Homo sapiens: one gene and its partners. The protein of the gene in region 1 interacts with the protein of each later gene in a biochemical or structural test. Each region holds a gene or a part of one and is shown in the gene's direction. Other genes may lie near its edges.

The links.
Region 2: of the proteins of NEK1 (region 1) and CFAP410, one has a biochemical effect on the other in vitro, tested with the Homo sapiens proteins (one study listed by BioGRID).
Region 3: the proteins of NEK1 (region 1) and PTPRD form a complex in vitro, tested with the Homo sapiens proteins (one study listed by BioGRID and IntAct).
Region 4: the proteins of NEK1 (region 1) and SIRPA form a complex in vitro, tested with the Homo sapiens proteins (one large-scale study listed by BioGRID).

What each region holds. Positions count from the first base shown.
Region 1 is NC_000004.12:169,395,713-169,400,267, reverse strand, and holds part of NEK1 (serine/threonine-protein kinase Nek1), read left to right. Parts: coding exon 1-43; intron 44-4,555. UniProt on the Homo sapiens protein: Phosphorylates serines and threonines, but also appears to possess tyrosine kinase activity. Involved in DNA damage checkpoint control and for proper DNA damage repair.
Region 2 is NC_000021.9:44,328,336-44,332,890, reverse strand, and holds the end of CFAP410 (nuclear encoded mitochondrial protein C21orf2), read left to right. Parts: intron 1-876; coding exon 877-1,048; intron 1,049-1,971; coding exon 1,972-2,068; coding exon of another isoform or gene 2,069-2,428; intron 2,429-2,564; coding exon 2,565-2,693; 3' UTR 2,694-3,947; downstream 3,948-4,555. UniProt on the Homo sapiens protein: Plays a role in cilia formation and/or maintenance. Plays a role in the regulation of cell morphology and cytoskeletal organization. Involved in DNA damage repair.
Region 3 is NC_000009.12:10,602,623-10,607,177, reverse strand, and holds part of PTPRD (receptor-type tyrosine-protein phosphatase delta isoform 1 precursor), read left to right. Parts: intron 1-4,555.
Region 4 is NC_000020.11:1,918,808-1,923,362, forward strand, and holds part of SIRPA (tyrosine-protein phosphatase non-receptor type substrate 1 isoform 1 precursor), read left to right. Parts: intron 1-2,587; coding exon 2,588-2,905; intron 2,906-3,505; coding exon 3,506-3,838; intron 3,839-4,555. UniProt on the Homo sapiens protein: Immunoglobulin-like cell surface receptor for CD47. Acts as docking protein and induces translocation of PTPN6, PTPN11 and other binding partners from the cytosol to the plasma membrane.

The sequences.
Region 1 (4,555 bases):
AAGATTCTTCATTTAGTCATGGCAGATGGAGCCTACCAAGAAGGTAAGATTTCCTCACATGTCTGTATAATTTTCAGTAAATGTGAGAAAAACAAGATGATACATGTATATGAATCAGCTTACATCACATCCATTTTGTGAAATCTACTTGGGAACTATATAACTTTTAAGCAATAATAAAATTAACTTTGTCATGTACTTTTACTGATCTGTCATATACTTTTACTGACTTAAGTCCTTTAAGTCCATATTTTTAATTTAATTTACAAGTAACCTTTGAATGAGGTTTTTAAAAATCTTACTAGATAGATTTTTGGACAGCTCTAGCAATTAGAATAATCCTAGCCGGGTGCCGTGGTTTATGCTTGTGATTCCAGCTACTTGGGAGGCTTAAGTGGGAGGATGGCTTGAGGCCAGGAGTTTGAGACCAGCCTGGACAACATAGTGAAACCCTATCTCTACACACAAAAAAATTTTTAATTAGCTAGGCATAGTGGTGGGCACCTCTAGTCCCAGCTACTCAGGGGACTGAGGTGGGAGGATTGCTTGAGCCCAGGAGTTTGAAGCTGCAGTGAGCTGTGATTGTGCTACTGCACTCAGCCTTGGTGACAAAGCCAGACCCTGTCTCAAAAAAGTAAATAAATAAAAATAAAGAAGATTATAACTTAGAATAATTCATTTTTTTTTGTTTTTTTTGAGACAGAGTCTTATTGCCCAGGCTGGAGTGCAGTGTCGTGATCTCGGCTCATTGCAACCTCCACCCCCTGGGCTCAAGTGATTCTCCTGCCTCAGCCTCCCAAATAGCTGGGATTATAGGCGTGCGCCACCACACCTGACTACTTTTTGTATTTTTAGTAGAGACAGGGTTTCACCATGTTGGCCAGGCTGGTCTTGAACTCCTGATCTCAGATGATCCACACACCTCAGCCTCCCAAAGTGCTGGGATTACAAATGTGAGCCACTGCGCCTGGCCCTAGAATAGTTCTTATCAAGGATGTGGTATTAAACGTTTTTTGTGTGTGTGAGATGGAGTCTTGCTCTGTTGTCCAGGCTAGAGTGCAGTGGCACAGTCTCAGCTCACTGCAACCTCTGCCTCCTGGGTTCAAGTGATTCTCCTGCCTCAGCCTCCTGAGTAGCTTGGCCTACAGGTGCTACCATGCCTGGCCAATTTTTGTATTTTTAGTAGAGATGGGGTCTCACCATGTTGGCCAGGCTGGCCTCGAACTCCTGACCTCAAATGATTCACCCCTCCTTGGCCTCCCAAAGTGCTGGGATTACAGGTGTGAGCCACTGCACCTGGCAAAACTTGTAGACACAAAAAGCAATATGTAAAATTTTGAACAAGAATTTATTTCTAGATTATTTGCCCAAACATTAATTTTATTACTTTAAATGTTAAATTCATAGACTAAAATTGAGGGTTTTAAATGTTGATGCTTAATTTTAGCAATAAAAATGTTTATAAAATGTATTTGTATTCCATACAAAATGTGTTTGCATATTCATACAAAAAAGTCTAAGATTGCATTGAAATATATATATGTATATAGTAAGAGAGAAAATTAAGTTTTAAAAAAAAGTTTGGGGAAGTCAACAAATTGGACAAATGAGCACAAGCAGTATAACATGAAGCCAGGAATGAAGAATACAAACTTCATGTTCAAAAGGTTTCCACATTTTCTAAAAACAGGAAACAAATTTGGTGCTGGTCTTTCTCACAAAGCAGAAAACCTAATTAATTACATGAGTCACAGTATTCATGAGACAAAACATTTTAGTTGCTCAGAGGACAGCTATTTTTGGTATTGAAACCAAAGGAACAATTTTCCCATGATCTTTAAAAAGAGGGCACTATCATACAGTGTTCCTCAAACTTGAATAACATGTGGATCCCTTTAAGGAGCAAAAAGTATTTTTTTCAGGCATGAGAATCCAAGGGTCTATAAACCCCAGTAAAAAAAAAAAAACTCAAGTCTTAGTGGTAGAAAATTTCTGTTAGTTGTGAATTATTACTGTAAAACATGTTGTATTTTTCTAAATATTAAAAAATTTTATCAAAATGAAAATATAAAAGGTAAACATTTTCTGGTACTTGTGGATTTCTTATTTTATTGAGACCTTGGACTTCATTTTACAAAACAGTGCTATAATGGAATGAAAAGTATCCTCAGTAATTTTTACAATATTTAGATTTCATGAGGCTGTTTCTCATATGTCATGCTGTAAGTTAATGGCACGAAGCCAGAGGATGATTCCATTTCAGTAATTCTGTAGAGTGTATCAAACCAATTCTATTCATATTCAGACTATTCCACCTCCAGGCGGTTCTCCTTAAGTATTGTTTCAATAGAGCTTTTCATAAGTAATCAGCAACAATGTGCTTGGGGTTCAGTTTTGCTCAACAAGTATCTGGAGAGCTTTTAGTTTGCCTTGCCCCTTAAGTGGAGAGCTGTAACAATCAACTTATTCACAAGGTAGAATTGACACCCTCTTTTGACAACTGAGTGGCTTCAAAAGGATATAAGCCTACACAGAAGGCCATTTCCCCTGCAAAGGACCAAGAATCAGGCTAGGTTAATACACCACTCAGGAAGCAATATCAGATTTTCTCTAGTACACAAATGGAAAGGGAAAGAGAACCCCAGAGTTCTGTATCATAAAGCCTGACAGTAATTCCTTCACCCTAGAAAAAATGTAAAGCAATTGAAGATGCCTACCCTGGCAATCTTTTCTAAAACTCTTAGTACATACCATTACAGCAGGTGTAGCTTAAAAAAAAATTGAGTACAGCCCATAAAATATTGTAACTTGCTACTATAGCTACTAAAGAAACTGGTTATAAAATGGATATTGAATTATGTGGATGACTTGCTGTTTTGTATTGTTAATCATGAGAGTTAAATGAAATGACTAGATATAGATTTCATATTCATTGATTCAGAATAACCGTTTTGCACTCCTTCTTATTGGAAGTCAGTAGAGCCCATATATAGCTGTTCTTTTTGATTTGGGGAGTTTTTTGTTGGGATTTTTTTTTTTCTATGGAGACAGGGCCTTGCTCTGTCACCCAGGTTGGAGTGCAGTGGCATGATCTCAACTCACTGCAACCTCCGCCTCCTGGGCTCAAGCAGTCCTCCCACTTCAGCCTCCTGAGTAACTGGTACTACTGGCGTGAGCTACCATGCCTGACTCATTTTTGTATTTTTTTGGCAGAGATGGCATTTCGCCATGTTGATCTCAAACTCCTGGCCTGAAGCTGTCCTCCCACCTCAGCTTCCCAAAGTGTTAGGATTACAGGTGTGACCCACCGCACCCAGCCTACCTGTCTTAGAGATAGTTGTCCAGACAGCTATCTTTTAGGCCACATCTAGGAGATGGTAAAGCCATGTCATCTACATATGGTACTTACACACTTTTATTTTCTGTGTTGGGGAAAAGGGAGAGTAAAGAAGGGAAGGGGTAAGCAAAATTTTATCTCGCTCACCCGAAAGTGACATCAAGTCATTAAGATACAAGTTAAAAAGAAGATTGTCAAAAACACATTTCTGTTTTATTTCACTGGAAATTATATAAGTCCTGAAAAGACAGCCTCAGCTATTTAACTCTCCTGATACTGTTATGGTGCAGGTTTGGTAAGCGTCAATATCTTCAGCCGTTGATAAAGTTAATGCTTTTTTTTCCATAGCTAGATACTATCCAGAGTCAGAAGTCAAATAGAGCTAATAAAATGTGTAAGCGATTTGATAGTATTCCTAATAAATTCTTCCACAAGGAGAGGAGTATAACAGCTGTGGCCAGTGGCAACCTGGCAGAGGCTACCATGTTCTCACATTGAGTATTAGCATTAGCGGCCCAAGTTTATAGATTCTTCTTTTTTTTTTTTTTTTTTTTTTTTTTTTTTTGAGATGGAGTCTTGCTCTGTCGCCCAGGCTGGAGTACAGTGACATGATCTCGGCTCACTGCAACCTCTGCCTCCCAGGTTCAAGCAATTCTCCTGTCTCACCCTCCCAAGTAGCTGGCATTACAGGCATGTGCCACCACACCCAGCTAATTTTTGTATTTTTAGTAGAGACAGGGTTTCACCATGTTGGCCAGGCTGGTCTCAAACTCCTGACCTCAGGTGATCTGTCTGCCTCGGTCTCCCAAAGTGCTGGGATTACAGGCATGAGCCACTATGCCTGGCCATTATAGACTCTTAAGAAAGAGACACATACCTTCTCTTCATATTCATTTTAGGTGGAATATTGGGCTGCGTTTATGTAATGAAATTGTATACATCGGCTAAAATGAATGAATTAAATTCCGACTGTCAATATGGATAAGCCCCACAAACATGATGAGTTGAATAAGTAGAATATTACACCATTTATGTAGTGTTTCTAAACAATTTTATTTAGATGTGCATGTACGTAATAAAAATAAAAGCAAAAACCATGAGCGGGAAGAATACACATCAATTTCAGAGTACTGAAAATGCCCCTGGGGAAGAAAGGAAGGCAGTAAGATTGAGAAAGGGTACTCTGCATCTGTAATATGGTTTTACTTAAATAATCCA
Region 2 (4,555 bases), on another chromosome or scaffold:
CTGTTCCCCTGGCTTCTGTGTCTCCTCTTGATCCCGCCACCCGAATGCAGCAGCGCAGCGTAGGGTCCCTCCTGGGACTGACAGTTTGGGTATCCCCCAACGACCGCAGGACCTGGTAGCAAAGCAAAAGGGTTCCTTCTTTTGCTTCTGTGAGTAGCAGCCCTGCTCTGACCATCGCCATGCGCCATGGCGAGCGGGGGCGTCAGTATCTGGCAAGCAGCATCGCACTGGTCCACAGGGACTGGGCAGGCTCCACGGGCCACTGTGAACCTAGGGTGGCGGTGCCATCGCGCCCCTGCCGTGGGGAGGGGCCGTCCCAGCACCGCAGTGCCTGCTGCTGCGCTCCACCTATTGGAGGCACTCGTGCCTCCTCTAGCCAGCGCCAGCACCGACACAGTTTTCCAGGCTGTGGTTTCATGCTGTTTGTTCATCCTTGGCATTCTCAGCACACTAGTGTCTCATCCTTGTCAGGTATACAGACACCACTATTTTCTCCCAGACAATTTTATTGATATTAATAATATAAACTTCAGGGAAATTGATATATGAGAGAAATGGAATAAATTCAATATGGTCTGTTCCTTTTTCTATTGTGTCTTAGTTGAGGTTTTGAGGAGTATTTGCTTCTGGCCAAGGCTGGTGTTGAGATTCCTGAGCAGCCCTCCACCATCTGTTGTGTGTCAGCCTGTGCCAGGCTGGGGATGGGACAGTGAGGAACCGGCTGCTACTCTGGGAGTTGTCCCTGGAGGTGGATACACGTGCATGCATTTCACAAGCAGACTGTGCCTGAAGCCACAGTGAGGACGGGAGCTGCAGTGCATGTGGCCTGCACGTGGGTGAGGCCACTCATGCTGTCTTCTGTCTTTCATCCCAAAGCTGTGACGGAGGAGGAGCTGTCCCGTGCACTGAGTGAGGGAGAGGAGATCACTGCGGCCCCAGAGAGAGAGGGCACAGGCCACGGCGGCCCCAAGCTATGCTGCACACTGAGCTCCCTCAGCTCCGCTGCTGAGACTGGCCGGGACCCGCTGGACAGCGAGGAGGAGGCAACGTGAGGCTGGAGGGCAGCGGGGACTCCGCAGCCCATCCCTGTCCCCCAGGGTCCTCCCACGGGGAGTGAATGGGGCTTCCCGTGAGCTGCGTCTCTGGGAAGTGAGGGACAGGGATTATCCGGGGGGAGTGTCTGTTCTCATCCATATTCTCTGGGAGTGACTCAGTGCCCAGGTAGTGATTTCAGTGGCAGGTCCATGTTTTGCCCAACAGCGGATGTGCCAGGGAGCAGGAGAGGGGGTGAGCCAGGCCCCGTGCCCTGGCACAGAGAAGGCTCACAGCACCAGAGCTCGTGAGGTGCAGGGAGCCCCTGGTGGGGGGGGTGGCCTAGGGCCACAGTGACTGGAATGGTTTGTGGGCACGGCCATCAGTGCCCGTATGGCCTTGGGCCTGGGGGCCGTGGAGGGGCCACAGGGCTGACTCTGCAGTGAGACGCCGGCGCCTCCCAGGGCAGTTGGCAGCGGGTCACGAACGCATTTGACAGAAGCTGGGCACTTCTCTCCTGCTTGGCAGATCACACCCGCTGCTGGTGCCTGTGGTGGGGGCATCGGGATGTGATCTCTGTTAGGCATCTGCCATCCGGCACAGGGCCTGACCCCATGGTCAGGAGCTCTCCCCCGGCATTTGTGTGTTCGGGTGCCCCCCACCCTGCCCCTGAAGCCCTGGGTGGAAGGTGTTACAGCTGGGGAGCCCCAGGGTGCCGGGAGGGCGCCCCACAGGTGAAGTAAGTGCCGGGCTCTCCAGGAGCTGCCATCTGTAGCCCCTGACCTCCCAGGAGTTGCCTCCCTTCTCTTGCCCCCGTGTGCCAGGTGGGATTTGTATGAGCCCCTCCTTTGCTTGGATGCGACCCGCAGACAGGGTTTGCAGAGGCCCCCCCGGTGCCACGAGCCCCCTGACCCTCACACGCCTTTGTCTCCCTCTCAGCAGCGGCGCCCAGGATGAACGTGGCCTGAAGCCGCCTTCCCGGGGCCAGTTTCCTTCCCTCTCAGCCAGGGATGCCTCGAGCAGCCACAGGGGCAGGGTGAGTGGCGGGCCGCTAGGGGCCGCGGCTGCCTCTGCCCACTGCACCCACTGCACAGAAACCGTGGGGAGGGAGCATGGAGCCTCACAGGGCCCCGTGGGGAGGGAGCATGGAGCCTCACAGGGCCTTGAAGAGCTGTGCCCCAGGGGGAGCTGCGTGTGCGGGTCTGTGAATGCGCACACACGTGTAACACGTGCCCCGCACGGAGCCGTCCTGGCCCCTCAGCCTCTCCTGCTGTCCTGGTCTGTGGAATGTGGGCCCGGGCCCTGCTGGGCTGAGGGCAACAGGAGTCACGTGGAAGAGGTGCCACACACGCGTCCACAGGCGGGGCTCCTCTGCTCAGATTCTCCGAGTGTGCCGGTCAGTCACTTGGACGGCCCACACCCCCGGGACCAGTCGCTCCGTGGTGGGGCACCGCTGGCCAGGCCCCAGCCCTTGTGGAGGGAAGCAGCCTCGCCGTGCCGGGTGGGCTTAGTCCGCACCCCTCTGCCCTCAGAACGTCCTGACTGCCATCCTGCTGCTGCTGCGGGAGCTGGATGCAGAGGGGCTGGAGGCCGTGCAGCAGACTGTGGGCAGCCGGCTGCAGGCCCTGCGTGGGGAAGAGGTGCAGGAGCACGCCGAGTGACCGCAGGACCTGAACGCCGCTCCAGCCTCCACGGGGACCCCAGCGTCTTCCCCAGCCCCCGGGAGCTGGAGGGTGGCTGCCATGGCCGCAGCCCCGGCCCCACACAAAAGCCTCCCCGGTTTGCCACATCGGCCGAGGGCAGGAGTGGGTGTTAGGTACTGGCTAACCGGGGCGGTGGAGATGCCTGTCTACACCAGTCCTGTCCCCAGGACTCCCCTTCTGTGGTCTGGAGGTTCTAGGCTGGCCTGGGCTCTTAAAGGGAGGATTTTGCAGGCTGTCCTCCCTAATAAAAGATTTTCCCAAGGTTGATCTGGAGGTGACGTTTCCCAAGGCATGGTTGTGACAGTCTTCCTGAAAGCAAGGGCCGTTTCTCCACAGAATGAGGAGGTCTTCACGGATGGCTTTGCCGATTCCAGCCCTTGGTCCTTGGATAGATTTCTGTTGGGCAAGGGAGACTTCGAGAATGCTGGCACCCATAGCGACATCTGCCCTGAGCTGCTCAGCAGGCAGGCAGCAGCCTCCCGCACCCATGGGAGAGAGTTTTGTTTTCTTGGCCGGGCTGGGCAGGTGCGCCTTCCTTTCTCTCTCCTGTGAAGAACTGCAGGAGGGCCCTCAGCTGTGAGGTTGTGGATGAACAGGCCTGTTCGCCCTGGGGTCCGGGCCTGGCACAGGAAGCAGCTAGACTAGGGGAGTCCTTGGAGCATCTGAGAGGGGTTTTCTTTCCTCTGGGAAGAGTCGCAAGTCTTATGAGGATGCCACAATCTGGGCAGTGACCCGTGGCCCTGGGGACCTTCCTAGTGCCCCCCAAAACCAAGGAAGCATTCACGTGAGATGGGGAGTCAGCCTTCCAGCTGGTGTGTAGGAAAGCCAGGTCCCTGGGCCCTTGTCCCATGTGGGGTTGAGATCCAGATCTCCATGAGATATTCCCATCCTCCGCCGAGCGGTGATGCGTGACCGTGTGTGCAGGCCGCTGTTCTCCCAAGCTCGGGGCCATGCCGTGCCACCGTCACCAGAGCCAGCTGCAGCACTGGGGCAGCCACTGTCGCCGGACTTGGGGAAGCCCAGGGTGAAGACAGTCACTCATCCGTGCAAGCTCTCCAGAAGGGATGCAAGCTCTCCAGAAGGGGTGTGATCTCTGAGCAGTGGGGAGTGGAGTCACCACTCGGGACATAGAGGGTGGACAGTTCAGGCCTGTGTCTGCCTCCTTGGGACTGTGGAGTGGGTGCCCTCAGTAAAGCGCTTTGTTGGAATGGTTGAGGTCGTTTTAAATTGAGTCCCTTCCACTTCCCCCGACATGGGCTGCCGTGGACATGCGGGGCTTACACCAGCGCCCTCCTGCCCCACATCATGCACACCTTGGGTGGGACCTGTGGGGGCAGCTGCCTGCCTTCAGCCCCACGGTTCCCCCTACCCCGTCCCCACCATTGCCGCCTCCTGCCTGTTCCCCTCCCGGCACCTCCTCACCCAATGCACCCAGCCATGGAGGACAGCCAGAAGCACGTCCAGCCCGGGGCACCCCACAGTCCCACTCCACTCCTCCCCAAGTCACCCCAAAAATGGGTTCTCAAGCCGAGCAGCACTGGCATCACACTCTGTCCCATTCACCCAGTTCACAGGAGAGGACCAAGGGCCCAGGAGGTCGCGTCACTCTGCCCGAAATGCCAGAAACGCCAACTCCACGCAGCCAGAAGTGGGCCTGACGCAGGCGCTCGCCACACCACGTCGCCCAGGAGGGAGGCAGCCACTGTCCCGGGCATCAGCCACAGGCGACCACCTGGGTGCAGCAGCTGAGTGGCAGCTGAACAGGTTCTAACACCTCATCAGGCAGGGCAGGCCGAGGGGGTCTACTCAGAACTGAGTCC
Region 3 (4,555 bases), on another chromosome or scaffold:
TACCTCTATATTCTCAAATACATTTACTTACATTAGATGCTAAAAAGGAAGAGAATAATTTCATATTCGATTATATACATTTCACATGAGATCAGAGATAGCTTAAATTAAATGTGTGTCTTTTCTACTGGGATGCCTTGTATGAATCATTGCATATATAATGCTATCTGATTTACTCTGTAAGGGAACAATTAAAGTATTATGATTAAATACAGAATTCATGAACTTTTGAAATAATTCATTTTTAAGTTTGCAAATATTTACGTAATCAGCTACAGAAGTCTCAATGCATTCATCATATTAGAACTTCTGTGAATTATAGATTTTACAAACTGTCCAAAGTTATAGTTCTCAAATGTAGTTTGTGTTAAAAAGGGGACTCCTTCAGCAGCTACACGAACAGAGAACAAAGCCAGGCAAGCATTGTGTTCACATGCATTTTTTACTACTACCCACATGTAACATGACATACGTATCATAGGAATACTTCCATTCCCTTGTCTGGTTAAATAGTCCTTGCTCAGTTAAGATAAAGGCCTAGATATAGCTTCTTTATACCACATAGAAAATAACCCAAACCTCATATTTTATCTCAAGTTCCAGGAAAGGTTAATTTAGAGCACAGAAACAGAAAAAAAAAAAAAGAAAATAAAGAAGAAGTAATGGAGTGTTTCCTGTTTCTAAAGTGGAACCAGTGTAGGCCACTTACGAAAAACCTGTATTTAGAATTTAGGAAAAATACTCACATAAGCTAGCATCCTTGGGATTTTTTCCCAATAATTGGCCTCAAATCTTTATAATCAAAGTTAGAAATTCTACTCAGTGGAAAAGGATGGAGGGGGTAGAGAATGGTAGAAGGAGTGACTCATTAATCTCACGCTAGAGACAGAATTATTTCATTTCTTATTCTTCACCCAAATGGTTATCAGGATGAAAGATAAATCTTTCACCTTGGGGTTAGGTGGTCATCAGATTTCTAGGGAAGTCTGGCTCACACTTTTATCTTGTCACTTTTCCGTTTTTTTGCTGTTGATAACAATATAACCATCTGGAACCATTGAGAAGGACAGTTTATTCATGAACCATAGTAATTCCTGTTTGATTTTGCTACAGAAATCAAGGATAGGACAATAATTCAGGTACCATATTCACATTATGCACTACTCTTAGAAGTTGCACCCTCTTCTATTTTCAAACTACTTGCAGAGGTTGCACCCTCTTCTATTTTCAAGCTTGTAAATGTTGTCAAGTCAGAATCACTAGTCAGGATTATGCAATATGCATAATACGGCAGCATAAATCATATAATATTATCTAGTCCCAAATATGTATTGAGTCTCCTATGTGTCAAGGAGTGCTGAGTAAAACAGCCATGTGCTAGCAATTTGAAACTACCCAATTGTGACCATCTTATGGTCTTATAAAATGTATCCACGTTATCATAAAATTTTTGATTCCATAGAGAAAAAGGAATCTCTTCCCTAAGGCATTTCTCCCTTTATATCACAGAAAAATTTCCAGATACGTATCTACACTTACCTTATTGTCCTTCTCCTTTGCTGTCATCCTGAGTCACAGCTATTGCTTTTAGAACCTAGGTGGAAGCTGTGTTGCTTATTAGGCAGTTGCAGTCTATGCTGTTTTCCACTGGAATTTCTTGGCACCCTTCATCATCTTCTCACTCCAGTGCTAATTCCTTATGTGTGTTCAACTCTCCAAAGTTCTAGAAAGGCAGTAAAGCATGATAAAAATACGCCGTACTATCCTAATATTGACACAATATAAAAACACAAATAAATCGCCAGACCACTGCAGCAGTTTACAGTCTATGCACCAGTCCCTTATATTTCCAAATTCATAGAATACAATAGCAGTTACAGTCAAGACTCATGTTATTTTCAGCTATAACCAAAGCATAATAGCAGAAGTGCTTTGGTTTTCTCAGGAAAGAGAATAGACAGAGAAAAATGAGGAAATTCTTCCTGTACCTTTTGAGGTGAGATATTCTTATAAGAGGACTTATAATGTGTACTTTGGATCAAATAACCAAAGAGGAAGGCAAAAGTGCAATTTAAATGTTTAGAAATGTAGTGGGATTGTTAGATACTGCTGAAGTTAATAAGTTACCCTAAGTTCACGTCTTGATTTCTCTTAAAAAAAATCATGGAAACATCTATGACTTAAGTTTGAAGAGTTTCCTTTTTTATTCCCCCTGAAAACCTTTATCAAAGTACTACTCAGCAGGAACTTTTGAAAAACAGTGCCAAGATGATATATTGTTTCACCTTCAAAAAACTTTTATACCTGTAAATTTTAAAGCTAAATTATGTGCATCACAAGTATAGAAAAAATATTTCCCATTTGTAATTTCCTATTTTATTATATAATACATTCAATTAGTTCTCAATTAACACTTATCTATGGTACCTGTTTCAATGGACCATGGCTTATAATTTTAGTGTGTAAGAATTCCAGTGGCAACTCCTCTGAATAGATGTATTTATTGTGTGTCATATGTGCTAGCCATTTGTTTTCTCCTAGGAAACATATGTGGTTAGCTCTGAAAGAATAGCTTAGCCTCATCATTTATACCTGTGTGGTTGCAAGCAACAAGGCTTTCTTGCAGTATAATTGTCTCAGGGATTAAGTCTAGTGCTTTATTCTCCCATTTTCCTGCCCCTCAGGAGGATATTCCTTCCTTTTTATTTTTATTTTTTTTAGGGGCTTGAAGTCTTCCTATTTTCCCATACACCTCTCCCACTTGGAAAACATGCCAGGATTTAATAAAACAAATTACACATTCACTAAGACACATTCATACTGGCTTTTTGAAGTATTACATCAGTGCATTCTGAGAGATATTCTGATGGTATTATAGATACAGATATAGATAGCTATTTTAAGAGAAAGGAATTTCAGGCCATATTCAAGAATGCTTTGGTGTGAATCAAATGCTGCTGAATACAGAGATGAAGAAGCTAGGTCAGAATATGGTCAGAATAGGTCAGAATATATGGTCCTCACCATGGCAGGCTTTTCTTTCCTCCATTACTCATCAGTTCTCTTCCTATTTCTGTTTCTATTGCCAAGTTCCCCTCTTCTGCCTATGTTTTTTAACTTCATAGGGAGCTATGGTGACACACAGGAATGACTATGTTGGCCTTATGAACAATTAAAGGGTGTGTTATTAACATTATTAAATAGATTATACTATTGTCTGTATTGTGCATTTCTCTTACAACTCATTCATCCTTCTCATCCATATAATAATCTGCAGCTCATATGTAGTTTATCACTTCTTGTAGTGGGATTAAAAGAAGTATGTAATTACACTTTTTTGTTTCTAAATCAGAGATGGTTTCAAGGTCACTATGATCTTTTTATTCTTCTTGGTTTCTTGAATTTTATCTCTTATATACTGCCTCATGAGTTCTTGAGAAATCTTCAGATAGAAGGTAATAATAATAGCCAACACTTATTGACTGCTTCATATCTGCCAGTCACTATTTTAAGTGCTTTCCATGCATTAACTTATTTATACCCATATCATTCCTGTGAAGTTGGTACAATCATTATCTTTGATTTATAAATGAGAAAACTAAAGCACATAGAGGTTAAGTTGCCTAAAGTTAATAACGTATTTTCCCAGATGTGCATATTAGTACGGAAGGTAAATGCTACAGTTATCTAGATTCTGTACATGAAAAGCAGAAAAAGTGTGAGATTGTGGATCTGCTTTTATAAGACAAATTCTTTCAAATGAAGTGAGCACAAGTTATCATAAGTAAATGATCACAAATGTGAATGCAGGAGGACAGATACTGTAAAAGTGCTGCCCAGGGGAACAAAGAAGCAGAGGGCAAATCATATCAAGGAAAACTAACTCCAGTGTATCTCCTCCCAAAGTTGAGAGTTAAGCGTGGCACAAATGCTTCTGAGTGTATTTTTTTCTTCCTTTGGGATTTCCAATCTGTCAGAAAGAGAACCTGCTGTGCTCTCTGCCTTTCCCTGGGGTGGCCCTTCAAGCTCGGGTCCCTTTTCCTGGGAAGATTAATTCATTCAGTTCCTACCACTCTAACCTCTACAGCCTCTTGGCGTCAGATTTTATGGTATATCAGCTCCTTAAACACCTTGTTGTACTTGATAATCCATGACCAAAAGCCACAATTTTTGAACCAACCAAGAGTTTTGAGTTAGTTCACCTCATATGAGAGGCATGGTGGAATAGCAACGTGGAGGTAGGGAAGATAAGCTCATGGTGGAGTGGAGTGACATTTAGGATCAACAGGGTCCCATCTGCCAGTTACTATAATTCAGAGTATTTTAATGCATGCCCCACATAATAATGAAATGAGACTGTTGTGATTAACTGATGCAAGATAAAATGTAAGGATACTGATTATAATCAGCAAAGAAATGAGTAGGAAGCAGAAAACCAAAAATTGGCCTTCTAAGAGTCATTTTAATTACAATTATTTGTGGTGAACTATGTATTACCTATGCCTCATTGCCATCTATTCTGTCTCTTATTTACACCACTGCGTCACATTGTATT
Region 4 (4,555 bases), on another chromosome or scaffold:
CGGAATGGTGGCGGTGTTCGGGTTATCACTGAGCTCCTGCAGAAGTGTGGTTAGGAGAGTGTGGCCAGAGTCCAACTGCCTGGGCCACATCCCAGCTCTGCCACCTCCTGGCTCTGTGACCTGGGACAAGGCACTCCACCACCATGGGCCTCAGTGTCCTCACTTGTCAGTGATAACACCAACCTCACAGACCAGGAGTTGGGACCGAATGAGTTAAATCCTGTAGCGTGCTTAGGGCAGCAGGCGCCTGGCCTGCAGTCAATGTTCAACAGATGTGAGCTGTGTGATGCTGAAGCCATGCAACCTCAGATGGGTTAGTGCTCCTCCAGGCCTCAAGGATAAATGGTCCTTAGGATGTACTCAGGTAGTTTTCAATCTTGGCTGCTCTTTAGGATCATCTGGGAAACATTGAAATAAATCCCAGGCTCCACCACAGAAATGCCTCTTCAATTGGCCTGGCATGGGCCTAGGCATCTAAAGTTTTTAATTAATCCAGAAGATTCTAATACAGAGTCAGGACTGAAAACCCCTGGGATAGACACCCAGAGGTCACGGAGGACAAGTTGGAAAAGATGGTCCTCTTGGGGTGCCAGATGGGAGAACAGCTTTTCAGGGTGTGGATGCTTCTGAACAACGTGCACCCGGGACAGCTCTTTGGAGGCCCCAGTGGCCTGGCCAGACCCCCTCTTATGATACAGGCCTCGGGGGCCAAGGTAGGGGCCCCAGACAAAGCCCTGCTCAGATCCAGCCTCAGTGTGGGGAAACCTTCCATCCTGAAAATGTTTTTGTCTAAATGACCGCCGGAATCCCAGCAAATCCTTCCAATTCGGCCCCAGAACCCTCCCTGCCTCGACACACCAAGATGTCACGGAGGAGTCTGTTCCCTCCTCCTTTAAAATGCTTCCAGCTTCTGTAAATGGCTCTTCTGGAGGGAGGCGCCTGTGATCTTGTGTTTTGAAAGCCAATTCGCCAAACTTGTTTCCTGAGGGGATTGTTTAGAAAAGGGGAGAGAATCCTCACTTGGTGGTTTCTGCTCCTTGTATCATTTGGGTTTGTCATGAGCCACAGGGAGCAGGGTTTGAGCCTTTTCTTGGTGTTTCTGCTCTGCTTTGTTCTGCTGCCTGAAGGATAAATGTGTAGATTCGGAAGCAGTAATGACCAGACCTCCTGATAACAGTCACAGGGGTCATTTATTAAGCACCTGCTGCATACCAGGCTCTGTGCTTGCATTCATCCTCCCTCTTCTTAACAGGGTGGGGTTTGTATCCACTTTTGGCCCTGGGCCTCTCTGAGCTTTGTCCTAAAAGGGGCTCACACGAGGATCCCCTCACAGAGATGGAGTGAGGATTAAAGAGCTGACGGGCATGGAGGGAGCAGCCAGTGTCCAGCTCCAGAGAAGCCCTGGATAAATGGGAACTGATTGCAGCCCCTCAGCCCTGTGGGGACATCCAGGCCGCTGGCCTCAATGACTTGACTTCTTCAAGTGACACCCTCCTTACTGTGCCCTCAAAATGTTTGATGGGTGTGAGGGAGAAGTTAATATTTACAAATGCAAGTATGTGTGATATGTGCTTCCTGGTGACTGCGATAGGAGGTATGGGGTAATGATTAGCAATTTGGAGACACGTTTACGACCCATCTGCAGGGAGAAACAGCCCGCGTTCTGATTCAGCCATGTGTGTGCTTTCAGGACCCAGGAAGTGCTTCTGCCTGCTTGGGCGCCCTGTGTCTGTGTAATTAATTGATAATTAACCACTTTGGCTTTCTCCACACTTGGTGATCTTTAGTGTCTATCTAAAACTGACACCAAAGAAGACCGCAGATTCAGAAAAGTATCCCTTCCTTTCAAATTTAGCACTTGGCACAGATTAGACCCTGCTGGAATATTTGTGGAGAAAATGAAAAATATGAAGTAAATTCATAAATACCTGAAGAGAGAGCTTTGGATATGAATAAAGTCTGGGTTAAAGTTAGATCTGTTTTTGCTTATTTTTGTGAAGCATCTTCTGTGTTTATCCAAAGCAAAACTGCTTCTGTTGCCTCATTTAATCCTCGCTGCATCCCAGAAAGGAGAAATGCTGCTGTTCCATTTTACAGACAAGGAGCTGGGTGTGCCAGGCCGCCCCTCTCATGGGCTGAGCGGCCTGGTTCCAGCTCTCATGGTGATGCCACGTTGCTGCTTACTCCCTGCACTGACCTCTATAAACGCTCTCTCTGAGGTTGGCACTGTTGCCAGGGGAGGCAGGGTAGAAACAGTTAATACCAAGGATGAGATGGATCGTTAATTTTGATCCTGTGCCCAAATTGCTGGAAGTCACCCTGTGTGGAGTGGAGAAGTTTGAACTCAGGCCTGGACTTCCCTCTGGGCCCTGCCCCTACACTGTCTGACCTCACATGGGTCCTCACCTCTCCCAACCTTTGCATCCTGCTCTGTAAAATGACAATAAGGACACCGCCCTCATTAATCCTTCCACATTATTGGAAGGATAAAAAATAATGTCTCAGAAGGTTCTTAACGTGTCACACACTTATCGTTAGTGATTGTCATCTGAGTCATGTCTCCTGATTATCGATGGTCCTTTTGTAGCCAAACCCTCTGCCCCCGTGGTATCGGGCCCTGCGGCGAGGGCCACACCTCAGCACACAGTGAGCTTCACCTGCGAGTCCCACGGCTTCTCACCCAGAGACATCACCCTGAAATGGTTCAAAAATGGGAATGAGCTCTCAGACTTCCAGACCAACGTGGACCCCGTAGGAGAGAGCGTGTCCTACAGCATCCACAGCACAGCCAAGGTGGTGCTGACCCGCGAGGACGTTCACTCTCAAGTCATCTGCGAGGTGGCCCACGTCACCTTGCAGGGGGACCCTCTTCGTGGGACTGCCAACTTGTCTGAGACCATCCGAGGTAGAAGACCCTCACCCAGCCCAAGCCCACACCTGACCGCCAAGCCCACCCCCCACCACCCTCCACTCATCCAGCTCTACTCTTGCTCCAGGGCTTGAAATGCCTGGAACCTAAATTCCTAACTGCCCACCTCCCATGCCCCTAGATGTGCCAGCCACTTACTAACATTTTAATGGCAGTGGCTGGGTGACCACACCACCCACCAGGTGCCAAGGACTGTGCTAGCCGTTTCATTTATTTCACTGATAGCAAACACAGTTAATGAGTACCTACTATGAACTAAGCCTCTATGTGCTTGGTGATTTTCTTTATTTTGCTACAGTTACAACATTCCAACTGCATGCCAGGGGTGGTGCTTATAGATTTCCCTCATTCTTAGCCTAGTAGGAGCTACCAGTCCTTGAGCACCTACTGTGTGCTGGGCGTTGTGCTTAGTAATTTCATTCATATGCAAAGAGCACCCTCAATGTCTGAGCACCTGATGCCTGCCTAGCTCTGTCCTGGTGATGACCTCACCGTGGTGGGGGAGCTACGTTATGGAGCCCTCCCTGTGATCTGTCTGTGCCACAAGGTCAGAGCTTCTGCCCTGTGCTGTTTCAGTTCCACCCACCTTGGAGGTTACTCAACAGCCCGTGAGGGCAGAGAACCAGGTGAATGTCACCTGCCAGGTGAGGAAGTTCTACCCCCAGAGACTACAGCTGACCTGGTTGGAGAATGGAAACGTGTCCCGGACAGAAACGGCCTCAACCGTTACAGAGAACAAGGATGGTACCTACAACTGGATGAGCTGGCTCCTGGTGAATGTATCTGCCCACAGGGATGATGTGAAGCTCACCTGCCAGGTGGAGCATGACGGGCAGCCAGCGGTCAGCAAAAGCCATGACCTGAAGGTCTCAGCCCACCCGAAGGAGCAGGGCTCAAATACCGCCGCTGGTGAGGCCTCTATTTCAGCTGACCCAGCTTTTTTAAACTTTTAGTTTTGTGGGTTTTTTAAATGTTAAAAGTAGTAATTCATGCTTATTATAGAACAATCTAGAAGTCTATAAATATAAAGTAGAATTTTAATGTCAGCTCCATTTCCCCAAATCCCACACTCCAAGAGTCACCACTGGTAAGAGTTTGATGCACATCTTGATAGATCTTTTGACATAGATTTATATCACAGGAGGAAAGAGGGAGAGAGGGGGCCCATCTGTTCATGGTGTCCTGCCTCTTGCCTTCTTCACCTGACAGTTGTCATGCTCCCCATTCCTCACTGGCCCAGCCCCTCTTCCCTACTCTTTCTAGCCCCTGCCTCATCTCCCTGGCTGCCATTGGGAGCCTGCCCCACTGGAAGCCAGGGTGGAGTCATTCAGGGTGTTTGCAGCTTGTCTCACATACAGTCAGTGCTTCAGTGAACATCCTTGTGCATGTTCCATCCCACATGTGACTATTTCTGTGTGATTGCCCAAGGAACACTTTAGGCCAAAATGCATACTCATGTAAGGAGGAGATAATGCTGTCGCTCCCCTGAGAGAGTGTGAGGGTGTCAAGGTATCATTTTCTCAGCCCTTGCAACGTGGTGTTGGTGTACATCTCTTTTGTTTTCAAATGGTGGCACCTGATTGGCATTTCAGTGCAGCCATGGAATATTTCATCACCTGTTATCAA